Regions from separate parts of the Homo sapiens genome. Here region 2 is linked to region 1. Evidence: fine-mapped expression QTL. A gene starts in region 1. The other region holds a variant in brackets. All regions are shown on one strand. Distances are from middle to middle. Region 1 holds the start of ALS2CL (ALS2 C-terminal like). Region 2 has its middle 32 kb from the start of ALS2CL.

Region 1 (8,323 bases):
TGTCCCCTCCATACATGGTGCTGTGAATGCTGGTCTGCAGATCCCTGCTTCTCCCTCCTGTACTAATTTTAGCTCCTGTGAGTTTCCTGTAGGGACCCAGTCCAGCCTCCAGGGCCTCTGAACTGGAAGCTGTGAGCAAGGCAGGGGGTAGTGGCCAGAGGACCCTGTGGAATGTTCTCTCCTGGAGCCTGAAATCCCAGGGCTTAAAGTTTAGCTCTGGGGGAGCTGGGGGTAGGAAATGAGGACCCCCAGTCACAAAGCTAGGCTAGGATCCAGGGACTCAGCCTAGGGTGGGGGTGGGAGCTGGGCAGCCTAGGCCTGTGCCACAGCAGCTGGGGCCTGCTGGGAGTTGGCTGTCCCTGACCTCATCAGCCCCAGGCTCAGCTCAGAATAGCTGTGGGGCTGGGCCAGGCCTGTGTCAGACCTGCGTGTGCTTGAGCATGTGCTTTGTGTACTAAGGCACTGGTGCACATGGGAGTGCATGTGCATTCTGCATGCAGCTTTGTGTGTGGCTGGGTATGAGTCTCAATGGCTCCAGAATCACAGGTGCCATTCACATACGTGTGTGTTCCCTGGAGTAGTGTGCAGGTCTGTGTCCCTGTGGATGGGCACATGATCTGCACACGCATACCCAGGGCTGCCACTAGAGTTGTGCAACTTGGAGTCCTTACCAGTGGGTTCAATGGTAGATGGGTCCATGTGGCACAGGGACCCACCCATTCCCTGACTGTGGAATTGTATCTGTGTGCAGCGGGTGTGGGAGTGGTGTGGGTGGGTATACACATCTGTGGTGGGATTGGCTAGGGGCCCTTGGCTGTGCTGCAGGGGACTGAAGGCAGGTGGACTCAGCAGAGGCTGTCCTTTGGGCACTACCAGAGGCCTTACCTGGCCCCAAGCCAAGAATGAGCTGTAAGAGAGGCTGGGCAGGTCTTGCCCCATTTAGCAGATAGGAAAACTGGGCTTGCAATGCCCATGAGGTCACCCAGGGAATGGGGGAAGGACTGGTCTGCTGCCCAGAGCTCAGTCAGCCTTTCTATTCCCCTAGATGTGGCTGAACAGGAAGTCTGTGCTCTAGGGAGGAAGCCGTGGGAGCCCTTCCCTTCCTGCTCGAGCCCAGGCAGCACTGCCTTCCCTCAGCTGCACGTGCAGATGATGAAAGTGAGGCCCAGAGACACCTAGCATAAGATCAGATCTGTCCTGCTCGGGGCCTTGCCCCACCTGTCCCTGTTCGTCACAAGTGGTGAGGCCATATGCTCCTCCTGAGGCCATGGCCACTCTCCAGCCCTTGCCTCCCTCCTAAGCCCCAGGGATGCCTGGTGGCCCACACCCATGCTCTAGGGGACCCATAGATCCTCTAAACCGTGCTCATCCCTGAAGGAGCCCCTTGAACCCACCATACCCCTCCTCTCAGAGTCCCACATAACCCCGAGAAGGAGGCGCAGGTAAGATATTTCACCAGCAGGGGCACTACGTTACAGAGAGGCCACACACTGCCTGTGATCACACAGCAAGAGGAAAGCAGCACAAGGCCCCATACCAGCTCTTCCAGAATGTACCGCTACCTCCCACTGCCCCACAGGCACAAAGGATCCCCACAGGGAAGACCTTGGAGGCCTGTTTAGAACCTGAAGCCTCAGTTCATTCCACCTGCTGGGGCGGTGGCTCTGCCAGGCTGTGCTGTAGACTCAGGGAGCCAAGTGCCCCAGCAGACAGTCCCGCAGGCCAACAGGGCTGTGAAGGGGAGTGGGGGCCAAGGTCCGGAGCCTGGGGGTGGAGGGCATGGGGAGGGGAGGCTTTCCCAGAGGGCCAGAGGGACACCTCACCAGAAGCCTCCTTGAGGTAGCCCCCACCCACCAACACAGCAACACCTCTAGCAGGCAGGGACCAGAGGAGCAAGGCCTTTGGGAGTGGAGCCCCTCAGGCAGCAGGGGGTGCAGAAGGGGGCAAGAAAACAAGGCTGGAAAAGGGGAGGCCAGAGCTAGGGCGGGCTTTGGCAATGTGGGGAGGGATGGAGAAGCAGGAAGGGGCGGCTCTGCAGGATTGGGACCCAGGAGGAGAGCAATGTGGGGCAAAAGGGTGAGGTCACTGGGACCTGCAGTCACTCAGACAAGGGTCCCAGGCTGGAAACCCTCCAAGGGGTGATGTGCAGCTTGGCAGACAGTAAACTCCCACCTCGCAACAACCCAAGGGAGCCAGGGGATGAGCTTGGCAGGCCCCAGGCCCCTACTTACCTCCACTGGGGGTCTCTTCAGCCTGGCAGGTTGGGGGATGCCTCCCACCTCCTCAGTAGGGGGCTGAGTAGGGGGCTGGTGGGCCACCCTTTCTGCTCTTCCACGGCCGCCTTGGACCCTGAGCCTCCCCCTCACTGGAACCTGAGTGCCACTGAGAGCAATGGGTGACTAACCTGGTGGCCAGAGGGGGAATCAGGCTGCTGACGGGGGGCTTCTTTGTTACAGGTTTGAACTAAGTTCCCTCCCGCTCCCGGGGGGTCTGTCCCAGATAAGTCTTCAGCCACCCTTTCCAAGGTCTCAGGCCTTCGCACAAAGCACACGCGGCCGGCTTCATGCTCTACTAGGCCTGTTGAGACTCAGGAGTGGGGAGGAAAGGGGACTTCCCCAAGGTCGCACAGGAGGGGCGGCCGGCCGTGGACACCCAGCCCAGGGGGCCGCAGGGCGCCTCAGTATACCCCTCTACAGGCTCCAAGTTCCACGAACCCACACAGCGCTCCGCGTGTGCTGGCTTCTGTGACTCAGGGCAGACCCGGGAGGTCACGGGGCTGCACCACAGGCTCGCAGAGCGACTGACTGGCGGGGCGAGGTGGTGGCACGGCGGCCTCGGAGCCTTGCAGGGGAAGCGGGGCGCGAGAGGCGAGCCTGAGTGTGCGCGTGGGTGCGTAGGGGGCGGAGGGGTCAAGACTCCCACTTTTCCTCCCCGCGCCGGGTCCCAGGGGCCTCCGGATCCCGGGGGACGCCAGAGGGAGGCCTCAGGAGAGGCTTGGGGCGGCGGGACGGATCAATACCGCGCGCCAGCTCCTCGGTGGCCCGCCCGTGGCCCCCGCAACTCCAGAGCAACACCCGGAGGCGGGGCGGGGCGGGGCTGGGCGAAGGGGGCGGGGCTGGCAGGGGGCGGGACTGGCAGGGGGCAGGGTGGGGGTGCGAGCGAGGAGCCGCACAGGCAGTCCCGGCGCGGGGCAACCACAGCGCTCAGGTAAGGGCGCGACGAAGGGCGCGCGTCTGCGGACGGGTGTCTGCGCTCCACGCTTAGCTCGTCCAGGTGGGGGCTCCCGCCTCCTCGGCTGCTGCGGTCCCCGCCCAGCTCCTTGGTCCCGGCGGCAGTCATCCCCCGGCCGTCCGAGTCCCTCGTAAGATACCCCGCTCACAGCGTCGTCCTCCCTGCCTGGCTGCTAGCCTGCTTGGGTTCGGGGCAGCGCCCCGGGCCTGACCTGAGCCGTGGTGGCAGGGCCACGGGGCCCCAGCCAGCAGGAGAGACTGCCAGGAGGAGGTGACGCCGGCTGGTTAGGGCGGAAGGGCCCGACCCGGGATTCCAGGAGGTGGCCTTTTCGCATGGGAGCGGCATGGCAAATGCCTGGCGGCCGGAACAGGAGCTCGGGTCTGGGAAACTCCAGCGACTGAGTGTGTGCCTGGGCAGGGAGAGGAAGGGAAGCTGGGACATATGCGACAGCAGGGAGGGGTGCTTGTCTAGGACAAGAGGCTTGTAGCCATGGTGGGGCCGAGGAAGGGTGCAGCGGGGAGAGGCGAGCATGAGACTGAGGGATCAGGTGTGACAGTTCAGCGCCCCCTCCCTGGGGCAGTGCGTGTCTCTACTCTCCCCCACTGGGCACCAGACAACGAAGGGGCTGCCACGGCAGCCCATGAAAAAGCCTCCACAGCAGGCAGAACTTCCCTGCCTGTTCAGACCAGGAAATACCAGAGTGAGTGAGTGTCACGACAAGGTGTGTCAGGGGCCTAAGGAGCCAGGCCTGGGAGAGGACAGGGAAGGCCCCAGTGACCCTGCCCGGGAGGGACCTAGCGTGGACAGAGGCCAGGAATGCAGAGGAGAGACCAGGTCTGGCTACTGGTTAGAGCGCCACAGGGGCAGCCGCTGACTCACCTGGGCACGCCGTGACTGGCCAGTTCTGTCCTCACCCTGCCCCACCCCACCGCACCCCGTGGTGAGCATCAGGGCTGCCTGAGGACAGCTGTGAGGCAGGGCCCGTCAGGATCTTGCTCTGTGCCTCAGGTGAGTTGCCCACCCTCTCTGAGCCATCTAGCTAGGTGAACCTGGTGGGCTGGAGCCAGAAGTCTGGGTCTGAGCCCTGCACAAGTTCTACACAAGGGTCTCTGGACCCTCCCATTGTTCCTGGGCCTCAGTTTCCCCATCTGTACATTAGGCACAGCCTGTCACTAAGGAACCTTTGAACTGGAGGGAGGGAGAGGGTGAGGAAGCTATGCCCTTGACTGGAAGGGGGAAGGTTAGGGATGGGACAGGGGTTGGGGAGGGGGGTACTCCTGCAGGATCCTCCTCATATTAAGGTTCAGCACCTCCTCCTCCTGCCCTGCAAACGTGCACACTCATGCACATTCACGCTGCCTCACCCCTGCACTTACACTCTCCTCATCACTTCCAGGATGAAGCCCCAGACTCCCTAGCCTGGGAGCTGGGTCCCTCAGGGTCACCTAACCAGAATCCCAGCTTCCACTGCGGCCTTCCCCCAACCCACTGCCTCACCAGCCATGCTTAACTTCTGCCCGTTCCTCTGGGTGGTGTGACTCAGTTTCCCAGGGTTATAGATCCCTTTGGGGCCACAGATGTGGAAGACTCCCAGATTAACAGTTGCCAACTTGAGTCTGGAGGACTCACCCCCGGAGTCATAGGCTGCTTTGTGGGGTGGGGAGTCTAAGGACCAGATCCCCACACCCAGAGAAGCCCCCTTCCACCTGTTTGTCCTTTTGAGGGGAGACTTAAGTAGTTTGAAAAGCTGTGATCCTCTTTGGCTGGGCGCAGTGGCTCACGCCTGTAATCCCAGCACTTTGGGAGGCCAAGATGGGTTGATCACTTGAGGCTAGGAGTTTGAGACCAGCCTCGTCAACATAGTGAGATCCCATCTCTAAAAAAAAAAAAAAAAAAGAATAGAAAGAAATACAAACAAATAAAAAGAAAAAAATGCTGTGATCTGGTTGAACCCCCATTTCGTAGAGGGGTGGCTGAGGTACAGAGAGGAGTAAGGCTGTGGATAAGTTGAAGCATGTCCAGGGCTGAGCAGCCAGGTGAGGGCTGCTCCTGGGGGAGCAGCTGAGACTGGGCAGTGGGGACGAGGGACAGGAAGCCTGAGGAGGAGAGGCTATCTCTAGGGTCAGAGAGCTCCTTGCCAGGGTATGGTGTCGGCTGGGGTCATGGTGCTGGCCCCCCGGAGAGTGTAGGGATGTTGGTGTTCAAGTCTTCCTAGCAGCGAGTTATTTACTGCAGTATCTTTTCAACGTGCACTGATCTGGTTCCTAGTCTGCATCTCCTATCCTAGCCTCACCCTTTCTTCTACCTTCCCAACCAGGCTTGGATATCCTCACCTCTTAGCTTAGACCCCAGCTGACTGCCAGCTGAGAGTGAAAAGGTCACCCCCAAAGCGCCTTTCCATTCCAGCAGTTTCGGGAGATACGGGTGAGAGTTAGGTGGGCCTGGCTGCACCCCTATTCCCTTGGCTGGGCTTTCCTTGTCTGCCTGAGCTGACCTGGAGCCCCCTGTGTCCTGGGGGCCTGGGTCTGCCTCAGGGGCCCACAGAGGGAGAAGAAGCTGCAGCACAGAAGCTGCAGCTGGGTGTCTGGTGGCTTCCCCTTCCTGCCTCTCTCTCTGCAGCCTCACCCTCTCGAAGCAGCAGTAGCAGGAAAGGTGGGGCAGGAATGCCTGGCCTGGGCCTTTGGCCAGAGCTCTGAGGGACCCGCCCCACTCCATTCCAGAGCCAATTCCCTGGGAGTTGTAGGCTCTGCCAGGGGCCTGGGATGCCCGCATGGCACTCTCGGGGCAGGGTGGAGAGGGGAGGGCTGAGACCCCTTCCCACTCACCCTTTTGGGTCTGCCTGTGTCACCTGCCCATCGTTGGCTGCCCTGATTTTGTCCCCTGCCCCACACAGGTTGGCTAACTCCAAAGCCTCAGCGTGTCAGAGACAAGGAGAGAGACAGTCTGCGGGTCTTGGGCTAAAAGACCCTCTAACTCTCCGCCCCAGATACCTGATCAGGTCATTTGGGCAGATGAACATTGCCAAGTGAGGGTACCAGGGTCTGGTAGGGGAGGGCTTTGTTGGAGTAGAGCCTGTAGCCTGGCTGTGGGGGTAGGTTTGAGCCCAGGCCTCTCTTCACCCCTCCCTTTAGGCAGGACACTGCATTCCCAGGTGATTCCTGCCTGATTGGAAGGTCCCTCACTCCAGGGCAGGAAATCTCAAGGCTCAAGCCCACCTGCCCACCCCAAGGGCCCCCACCCATCCAGCAGGCACCCCTTCAGGGTGGATGGTTGTGATCAGTGATCCCTCTGTCTGGTTAGGGGACCATGGAGGGTCCAGGCTCCCATCCACATTGAACTCTCTCTCACTGCCTGGCACTATCTCCTCTACAACTGTCATACATTTATTTCCCCAAATGTGACTTTGGATCCCATCATTACCTTGCTCTAAAGTCCTCCATGGCTGTCCACGGCCGACTGAGGCACAGTGAAGCTGTGGTCCTTTGGGGTGCTGCTTGGTGGGCTGCCCTCAGAGGCTGGGCCCTCACACCCATGAGCCTTTACTCTCAGGGTTCCTCCACTTGCCTGCTGGGTCCTGTCTTCCTTTTCATTTCTTGCCCATCATTCGTGGCTCTAGCAGGAGGCCTCCGGACTCCCCCATACCTCCAAAACTCTCCTTGCTTACACAGCCTGGTTGGGTGACAGGGAGTCCCGAACCATGGGCTAGAGGACAGGGCTGGGATCCTCTGACAGTATGACCCTGTTTATAGAGACTGCAGAATCCCTGAAGGGAGACTTGATGGAAAGGAGGCTAAGACCAGGGCACTACTAATACTATCCTGGGCACTTGGGATCCATGGTGGATATTTGAGCAGAGGAATGAGCAGGCCAAACTGGGCTTAAAGAACATCTACCCTTTGGGGAAGAAAGGGTTGCTTCCCTTGGCAGCTCTGAGCTCTCTCTCTCCTTCAGGGACCCCTCAGCTGGGCCTAGGCAGGGAGCAGGGCAGAGGTCAGTGGCCAGTCCAGGAACTCCCCTTTGAGGCGATCTGGGCTCACTGCTCAGTTCTGATGTGGGTGGTCATGGACCTTGCTTCTGGGCACCCTGCCTGAGAGGATGGGCACTGGCCTTGCTCCTGTCTGTGCTATCTAGCTGTAACCTGTGCCCTACCTAGGAGGCCCTGAGTCCGGCACCTGGCCATGTGCAACCCTGAGGAGGCAGCTCTGCTGCGGCTGGAGGAGGTCTTCTCAGCCACCCTCGCCCATGTCAACAGCCTTGTCCTCCAGCCCCTGCTCCCAGCCGGTGAGTCTAGGCTTTCTAGTGGGGAGGGAAGGGCACCGAGGAATGATCCCAGGGACAGGAGACCTACCTTGTTGGACTTGCTGAGCCACAGCTTTCTCAACCTCAAATAGGAGTGGTGACACCTGGTATCAGCATCTTCTGATGCAGGTGGTGCGATCTTGGCTCACTGCAACCTCTGCCTCCCAGGTTCAAGCGATTCTTGTGCCTCAGCCTTCTGAGTAGCTGGGATTACAGGTGCCTGCCACCACGCCTGGCTAATTTTCATATTTTTAGTGGAGACGGGTTTTACCATGTTGGCCAGGCTGGTCTCAAAGTCTTGACCTCAAATGATCTGCCCGCCTCAGCCTCTCAAATTGCTGGGATTATAGGCATGAGCCACTGCGCCAAGTCTGACTGCTCCTTTTTTAAAGGAACGCTGAGGGGCCAGGCCATGAACCTACCTGTAGCCCAGACCAGGCTGTACAAAGAGATGGAATTCCTCCTTTCCCAGGGTAAAAAACTGGAAACTGCCCTTTGCTTGAATTTTCATCTTGCTCCCACCTAGGGCACCTGATGGTGCCGGGAGGGGAACAAGACTGACTGGAACAGGATGCCTAGGTTTTACTTCCAGTTTAATTCTCACCTGTGAGGCCTTGGACAGGTGCCTCTGTGCATCTGTGAAATGGCAGAGGACTGTGTGACCCTGTGGACTTCACATTCTGGATCTGAGTAGTCCAGGATGAGGAGGCCCAGAGCCAGGGGGGAATTCGTGTATGTACTTAGTTCCCTGAGGCTGTCAGGGTTGTCCCTGTTTAGTGAGGAGTGGGTGTGT
Region 2 (8,323 bases), 31 kb after region 1:
TTCCTAACCCACAGTGTTCTTCTGGAGGTGATTACTATGTATCACCCCAGACGTGCGGGCTGCGCCAGCGGCACTCTTAGGAGTGATCACGCCTGAGATAATGATCATGATCATTATCATCAATATCCACAACTGCCCAGCGCTCGCACGCAGAGCCAGGAGGTAAGAGTGACCGGATTAGCATCTCCCACACCAACCCCCACCTTGCAGCCCACGGGTCAGTAGCCCGGGTTCCTCCATGCAGGGATGGAGGTGGGCAGAGAAGAGTGAGGAGGATGAATTATGCAGCAGGGTCTCTCACAGCCAGTGTGGGTCTTTTCTTATTCCCCCTCCCTACCTCATAACTAAATATTTTATTTAAATGAATGGTACCTTCCTGGAGAATTGCCACAATTAGAGTCCACTTATCTTTTCAGTTTTTTTTTTTTTAGTTCATCTTTTAAGTCACCTGCTGTCTGTGGGTGGTAGGCGACATGAAATGTCCCACACAGCAGCCCTCAGATAGCTGCCTATTGCTGGTTCTCTTGGCTATGAGGGCGGCATCATTGTCCGACTGGATGTGCTCCAGGAGTTCAGATATGCAGCAGTACATTTAGGACTTGTCAAGCAGCACGGCCCACGTTCCCCGCAGATGGGAATTGCTGCATCTACGGTCGTCAGCACCCAGTGGTGCTCCTGGCAGAAGGGGAAGGGGTCCGTGGAGTCTGTTTTCCAGGACTGGCCAGGTCAGTGTACTGGAGTGCACAGGTCGCTGTGTGCACTGGAGTCACTTTGTCCCTTGACTGTGGAGCTGGTACACTTGCAGGCTTGCTTGGCCTCATGTGCTGGCCTCACTAGGCTTTGACGTGGGCCCCAGTCCTGAGCTATGGACAGATGGCCAGGCCTCGTGTGATGGTGTATCCAGGTGGCTCTGATGCTTACCTGGGCTATGCAGAATTGGTCAGCTTATTGGTTTCACTGACGTTCACTGCCAAGGGGTCCTTTTCACTGGGTTTTCAGAGGCCCTGGGCCCTGTGCAATCTGAAGCCTAATGTTTGTCCCAACCAGGGTTGGGACTTGACATCCAGTTGTTCCATTGTCAAGTGCCAGACCACATGGTCAGCCCACTGGCTGTGAACTTTGGTGGGGGCTGTTTCCAGGGCAAGAACCATAGCCTGCACCACTGCCCCTGGCCAGACTTCTTTCTTCATATGCAGCTTTCATCAGTGTTTTCTGTGGGTCCTGTAGCTTGGCTGATCTGTCTGTGAATCAGGCCCAGGCCTCCTCAGGGACTGCGCTGTGGTGAAGTTCACAAGGAGCCTGAGGTGCTGGTGCAGACCCCAGGTCTGGGGTAGCTGCCCCTGGCGGGTGATTGCCACTTTTTCAGGCTGATGGGAGATTCCATTGATGCCTGGCTTCCTCCTTTCTTGGCTGTCCCCCTGTCATTTGATGACAGACATTTGCTGGGCAGTGTCCACTGTGTTGGTGTCTTTCCTCCAGACCCACCCTATAAGGGTCTGCCTGGGAGGAACCATGCATGGGGAGCTCTACCCTCAGTGTCTACCTACACCCAGCTGCAAGTCAGTAATTACCACTCGAGGGGGTGTGCTGGGCCCTGTCTGTCAAGTCACTGCTGTACTCAGAACACCAGGGGTCACCTTTGTTGACTGCCAGCATCCTGCTGCAACTGGCTCCAGGCTGAGTAATTGTCCGCCACGCACACTCATAATTTTCAAGGCTCTTCAGGACTAATTGGCTGGGGAGGGCAGTCCGCACAGCTGCTGGATGGTTTCCTTACGCACCTCTTCCTCTACAGCTCTTTAGTGCTGTGGCCCCTGCCCTCTTCTATTCTATGCTGCTTTACTGCCATCAAGTGGCTGGGCAGGTGAAGCCTGGTGGGCTCCCAGGTGTGTGCTTGTCCCACCGGCCACTGTCCTAACTGTGGCCCTTCCCCTGTGGGAGCAGACCTTGCAGTCAGGAGTCACAGCATCGGCTGATGTGCAGAGCTGCTCTCTCCTTCCAGGCCCCCGACCCAGCCTCCTCCTCTATTTCATCCTGTCTGGTTTTGTTTTTGTTTTCATTTTTACATCTCCCTGAGCCCAAGAACTCTCTGGACATCAGGAGGGGCAGCATTTGGTTGGCTGGTTTCAATTCTTCCTCTTGCTACTCAGCCTGCAAACATTCCTCAGGAGGTAGGACAGAGGGGTACCCTGTTCCCCTCCTCTCACCCTCCCTGGGTGACAGCATGCCTGGGCGATCCTGGGGTCTTCCACATCTCTTCATTTGGTCGGCCACGTGGGCCTCTTCTGTCTTCTCTCCAGAAAGGCATTGTACCCTTACTGGCCCCACGTTTGGGACCAATTTATCAAACTGTGAAGCAATTTCCAAGCGACAGCGTGGGTGGCTACATGACTGCAGCTGCTGGTGGATTTGGCGCACTTCCATGCATCCAGCCAGGGATGAGACAATGAGCCCACGTGGATTTAGACAGTTTATTATTTACAAGAACAGCAGAAGCAAAATGGGCAGGAGGTCAGCTCCCTTGTCCCTCATCCCACAGTCTGACTCTGACCCGGAGGGATCGGATGACAGTGTGAGCAGAGGGTCACTCAGCCATTTAGGAGCTGCCTCCATATTACAGCCAAACAATTTTGTAGCCTGCAGCTGAGAAAGACCTCTCAGTGGCTTCTCCCAAGTCTTAGCTCCCCTGGCTGCAGGAGGAATTGTAGGGCATTCAGCCGAGACACAGGTTGGACCGCAGCTGAGCCTTGCTTATGTGGCCTGCGTGGATACGCGCAAGATTCCCAGGGAGTCGTGCAGAGTCACAGACCATTCTCCACTCCGTTTCCTAATGGAGATCTGACACCCTCCCTCACCCATCTTCAGAGCTTCCCTTCATCCCTGGTCAGGCCCTGATTGAGAGTGCACCCCTCAGTGCTGAGCACTCTGATCTGGGATTCCTCCCTCCTCGTCCACACCTCTGTTCCATCAGCACCTCTGTCAGCCCGAAGGCAACATGGGTCTTGGGCACATCTGCTTCTCTCCGTGCCCATGCACACCCTTCTCCAGGCCCTGGTCCCCTCCCAGCTGGACACCTCCTGCCCCAGCCTCCTCCCTGGTCTTCCTGCTGCCTCTCCCGCCCCCATCCCAGCCAGGTGCCAACACTGCAGCCAGAGGCAGCTTCGTGAAATCAACCCTGCTGACATCCCTCCATGGCTTCCCAGTGCCTAGAATCAATCCAGCCTCTTTCTCTTGACTCACAGGCCCGGTCCCTGGGGTCGCCCTGGAATCCCTCTGCCAGCCCCTCATGACTCCTACCCCCTTTCCTCTCTGTGCTCTCGTCACTCTTGCCACCTGTCTTGATGCTCCTGGAGCCCCCTGAGCCTCTCCCACCTCATGGCCCTGCACTGGTGTCCTCCTCCTGGCCCTCACTCTCCCTGGAGCAGTCTCATTCTTGTCCTTCAGGTTCCAGGCTAAACAGTGCTTCCCACGAGAGGCTTCCCTGACCCGCGGTTTGCCGCCTCTGCCCTCTCCCTGTATCCTGTCATTGAGCACGTTTTGTCCTCACTGACACCCTCTCCTGGCTAAATCCCCCACTCCTTGCTGGACTGGGTGCCTGGGGAGGGCAGGGAGAGGCCTCCTCTGTCTTGGTCACTACTTCATCCCCAGGGCCTTGAACTGTGCTCTGCACAAGATCCATTAAGTGAATGAATCACAACAATGAGGCTGCAGCTCCCCAGCACCTTCTATGCCCTCCCCCTCCCCATCTAATCTAGTTTAGTGAATGGAACAGCGGGGGATTCAAGGCAGCTGTTGCTCCTCAGTGTGGCGCTAGTTGGGGAGTTAGAGGGAAGAGTTCAGTTTGACTCCAGGACAGGGCTTGAATAATTCAGAACACTGTTTTTTTTTCTTTTGCCACAGAGTCTCACTCTGCTGCCCAGGCTGAAGTGCAATGGCATGATCTCTACTCACTGCAACCTCTGCCTCCCAGGTTCAAGTGATTCTCCTGTCTCAGCCTCCCAAGTAGCTGGGATTACAGGCATGCACCACCTGGATAATTTTTGTATTTTTAGTAAAGACAGTGTTTCACCATGTTGACCAGGCTTGTCCTGAACTCCTGACCTCAAGTGATCCACCCACCTCAGCCTCCCAAAGTGCTGGGATTACAGGCATGAGCTACCACACCTGGCCCAGAACATTATTGATGACACCCCTGAGGCTGGGGAGCCATGACCCTGCCCCTTTAAGGACCCTGCTCCGAACTGAAACAGTAACACACATCCATGAGCTAGGACAGGGAAGAGAATGACAAGGACTCTAAACCACCCAGCAGTGAAATTTCCAATGGAAATAAGACCCACTGGGCCCCTCTGTGTTGGGGGTGGAGTGGGGGAGGGCAGCACTCCTGGAGACTCAGATCGGTTTTCAGGTTGTTTGCCCCAGCACTAAGC[C/T]GAGAAGTGAGCAAGGAGGGTTTGAAGCTTCAAGTCCACACCCAAGGTCTGCTCAGTGGGAAATCCTTCATCCCTGAACCCACCAGCAATTCCAGACCCAGGGGTGAAGGGAGGTGCAGGTGAGGGTGAGTATAACATGTGGCTTTTCCTGGAGGGCAGGGAACAGGAGTGGGAAGTCAGAGCTTGGGCAACGGGGACCGAGCTGCAGGGCCATGTGACCTAGTGCCCCAGGGGATTTGGCTGTCTTCCTTGGCTCCCGGAGCTCAGAGCAGTGCTGCAGCTCATGCCAGGGCATGTGAAGACAGAGCTAACTGGAGTGCATGGGGTGCCTTTGGGTGGAGGTTGCTGATGGCTGGGACAGATGCACCCTGCCCACTGTCTCCTCTGGGGACAGTGACATCTTTCCCTGCTCTGATAGCTTGAAAGGACCTGCATGGCTGAGCTGCCCAGGGGAGCATTGAGGTGCTTCCTCTGTGTCCTGAGGAGCCAGGTGCTCTCTGCACCCCCAGCTGCTGGAGCCCAGAGGGTGGCAGCCTGGAGCTGGGGCAGCGGTGCCTGGTGCAGTGAGGACTCGGTCTGTGTGGCCTGGTTAGCACAGGACCATGAGGAAGGGGTGAGGACCATCAATAAGAGGCCATCTCCAAGGCCTGCCTTCAGAGGCAAGCTCTTCTCTCCCACACAATTGCTTTGATCCTCGTGGGAAATGTGGTGGACCCTTTTAAGGGGCGGCAGAGAGCACTGGAGGAGAGAGAAAGGGGCCAGCAGGCACATGGGAGATACCTTGACCTCAGGGAACCACTGTTTCAAACCAGAAAGGATCTTTTATACCTTGCTGTCATGCAGCCAAACCAGGCGGACATACGAGCAAGCAGGTGCACCCACGCATCTGTACATGAGCAGTGCGGACAAGTGGCTGCAGGAGGCCCCCGGCCTGTCTCAGGCACTAGCACAGGACTATTCATCACTGGTTCCTGCATTTCTTTCAGGTTTGGCCAAGGCATCCCCAGGGACAAGCACGGATGACAGCAGGTGAGCTGAAATCAACCTGTGCTTACACAGTGAGTCTTGCCAGTGCCTCTGAGGAAAGATGACCTTGGGGAAGTGAGTGGTCATTGGTTTCCTGTGTGCCCGGTCCTTCTGGAGAAAGAGTCTGCAAAACATGCCTAGTCTGTGTGGTCACAGCAGGAAGAGGGCAGAGGTGGGGGCCCTGTCTTAGCAGACAGCACCATGAAACTGGATCTTGAAGAATGAATTTGCCAGAGGGAGGAATGGCTTGCCTGGCAGGGGGGAAGGCAGAGTCAAAGGCCCAGAGGTAGAAGGGCATGACTTTCCAGAATGCAGAGAGCTGGGAAATGAGTTGCAGGGAGGTCAGGCAAACCCCAAGTGAGAAAGACTTTCAAAACCTGCAGGGGCATTTCCCCATATCCCCTAATGTTCAGCCTCTCAGTATTTTTTTTTCTGCCCTGGTGGTGGCTTTCAAACATATCCACCAATTCTTCCACACTCTCCCCATCAAGACACAGAGGCCACGAACCTCACCTTAAACCACAGCCCTTAATGATTACAGCAGGAGAGAGCCGAGTGCCTTCTGAGGCTGCTTATAGAAAGCCACATAGGTCCTGCCAGTTCTCCTGGGATCCTTGTTCTGGGAGCCTTTAACCATCATGCTGGGAGTCTGGCAGCCCTGAGCTGCTGTGTGGGGACGCCTCAGAGAGAGAGACCCAATAGGCCCAGCCTATCCAGCATCCAGTGCCTGGAGTCTTACCAGCCCAGACACTGGGCGCGTGAGTGAGGACACTCGCGTGTGACTGCAGCCTCCATGGACTGGAACCTTAGAGATGCCCCCAGGCAACAGCTGCCTAGCAGCCCAGTCAGCCCCAGATTCCTGAGCAAAATAAACCTCGGCTATTGTTTCAAGCCATTGTTTTGGGATGGCTTTTTAGTGCAGCACTAGGTAAACGGAACAGTCCTTGCCAAACCTACTATTCATCATTTAACTTTTAGAGTTTTTCTATACTTCTACTTAAAAATGGGAATCTGTTAAAATGGGAAACTTCATATCCCTGTGTACGTGGAAATCCAGCATCAATGACCGTAAACGGAAGACAATTCTATAAACACAGAGGAAAAAAATGCATGTGTTTGGTTTCTACACAGATGCTGCTGTCTCTTGGGGCCTGCACCTCGGCAGAGGCTGATTCCAGCTTGCAGTTCTCCGCCACTTGCAGGTGCGGCATTGAAATCATTCCTTGGTATTATCTGTCTTTGTGATTAATGATAGTTTAAGATGGTACACAGCCACAACAAGTAACAGAATTTAATTTCACTAGAAATTTTAAATTGCAGAGGTGAAACAACAGAATGCCCCTTGGTGAAAGAGCAATGTCAAGCAGATGAGTAGTTTTTCCACAGTAAAAGTAACTCAGCAATTAATATTTATTTTTGGTTACAGGCGGGCATGCAGAGCATTTTTTTTTTTTTGAGACAGAGTCTCAGTCACCCAAGCTGGAGTGCAGTGGCGCAATCTCAGCTCACTGCAATCTCTGCCTCCCAGGTTTAAGTGATTCTCCTGCCTCAGCCTCCCATGTAGCTGGGATTACAGGTGTGCGCCATCATGCCCAGCTAATTTTTGTATTTTTGGTAGAGACGGGATTTCACTATGTTGGCCAGCCTGGTCTCAAACCCCTGACCTCAGGTGATCTGCCCGCCTCGGCCTCCCAAAGTGCTGGGGTTACAGGCATGAGCCACCATGCCCGGGCTCAAAGCATTCTTTAAATGAAATGTTTAGTATAGTCAAATACTGATAACCTGCTGGGTGGAGATCAAGGCGCGACTGGACTAAATTCACCAGGTGCTAGTCATTGAGTGTCTGCTGTGAGGCAGATGCCTTGCTAAGGCTGGGCATTAAAAAATGCCCAGTAGGCTGGGTGCAGTGGTTCCCAGCAGTTAGGGAGGCCAAGGTGGGAGGATCACTTGAGCTCAGGAGTTTGAGACTAGCCTCGGCAACATAGTGAGACCTCATCTGTATAAACATTTTAAAAATTAGCTGGGCATGGTGGCATGTGCCTGTAGTCCCAGCTACTCAGGAGGCTGAGGCAGGAGGATTACTTGAGCCCAAGAGGTTGAGGCTGCAGTGAGCCTTGTTTGCACCACTGCACTCTAGCTGGGGCAACATAGTGAGATCCCATCTCCACCAAAAAAAAAAAAAAAAGAGGTCCAGCATTTAGTTCTTAACTCCATTGGTTCAACATGTAAATAATTCTTCTCTGCACTACCTCCTGTCCAGTTCTGCTACCACCCCTTAGTTCAGTTTCTCCTTCCTTCTGTCTTGCAAATGTCATGGGTGATTTCCTGTGGTTAGTGTGGATTCCCTCCACAAATCACAGGGCAACTTTCTAGCATCCCAGTTCTGAGTCAACTGCACAACAGGAAAGGCACCTTCTGGAATTGACTTCTACCCTCCTTTCCAGCCACAATCCTGGCATTTATTGAACCTTGTAATCTATAATTCTGCCATATGAGTCTTCTAAAACAGTGGCCCCCAACCTTTTTGGCACCGGAGACCAGTTTTGTGGAAGACAATTTTTCCACAGACTAGGGGCGGGGTGGGGAGGTGATTTCGGGATGATTCAAGCGCATTACGTTTATTGTGCACTTTATTTCTATTATTATTACATTGTAATATGTAAAGAAATGATTATACAACTCACCAGAATGCAGAGTCAGTAGGAGCCCTGAGCTTGTTTTCCTGCAACTAGAGATGGTCCTATCAAAGGGTGATGGGAGACAGTGACAGATCATCAAGCATTAGGTTATGGTAAGGAACCTGCAACCTAGATCCCTCGCATGCGCAGTTCACAATGGGGTTTGCACTCCTATGAGAATCTAATGCT

What was found.
Region 2: its variant is fine-mapped to the expression of ALS2CL in whole blood (TOPMed, PIP above 0.99).

Annotation. Positions count from the first base shown.
Region 1 is chr3:46,688,527-46,696,849 of GRCh38, reverse strand. It overlaps ALS2CL (ALS2 C-terminal like), which reads left to right and starts at 3,171. Exons shown (of 26, transcript NM_147129.5): 1 at 3,171-3,207; 2 at 7,385-7,512. The coding sequence starts at 7,410. It also overlaps a transcript of TMIE not described here. RefSeq lists enhancers at 1-355, 1,445-2,234, 3,816-4,607 and silencers at 2,867-2,946, 3,097-3,346, 3,077-3,371.
Region 2 is chr3:46,657,370-46,665,692 of GRCh38, reverse strand. No RefSeq gene overlaps it. Among named protein-coding and RNA genes, the nearest start is that of ALS2CL, 32 kb to the left of the region's middle. RefSeq lists enhancers at 2,677-3,322, 4,303-4,898. The variant C/T (reference allele first, on the strand shown) is at 4,431.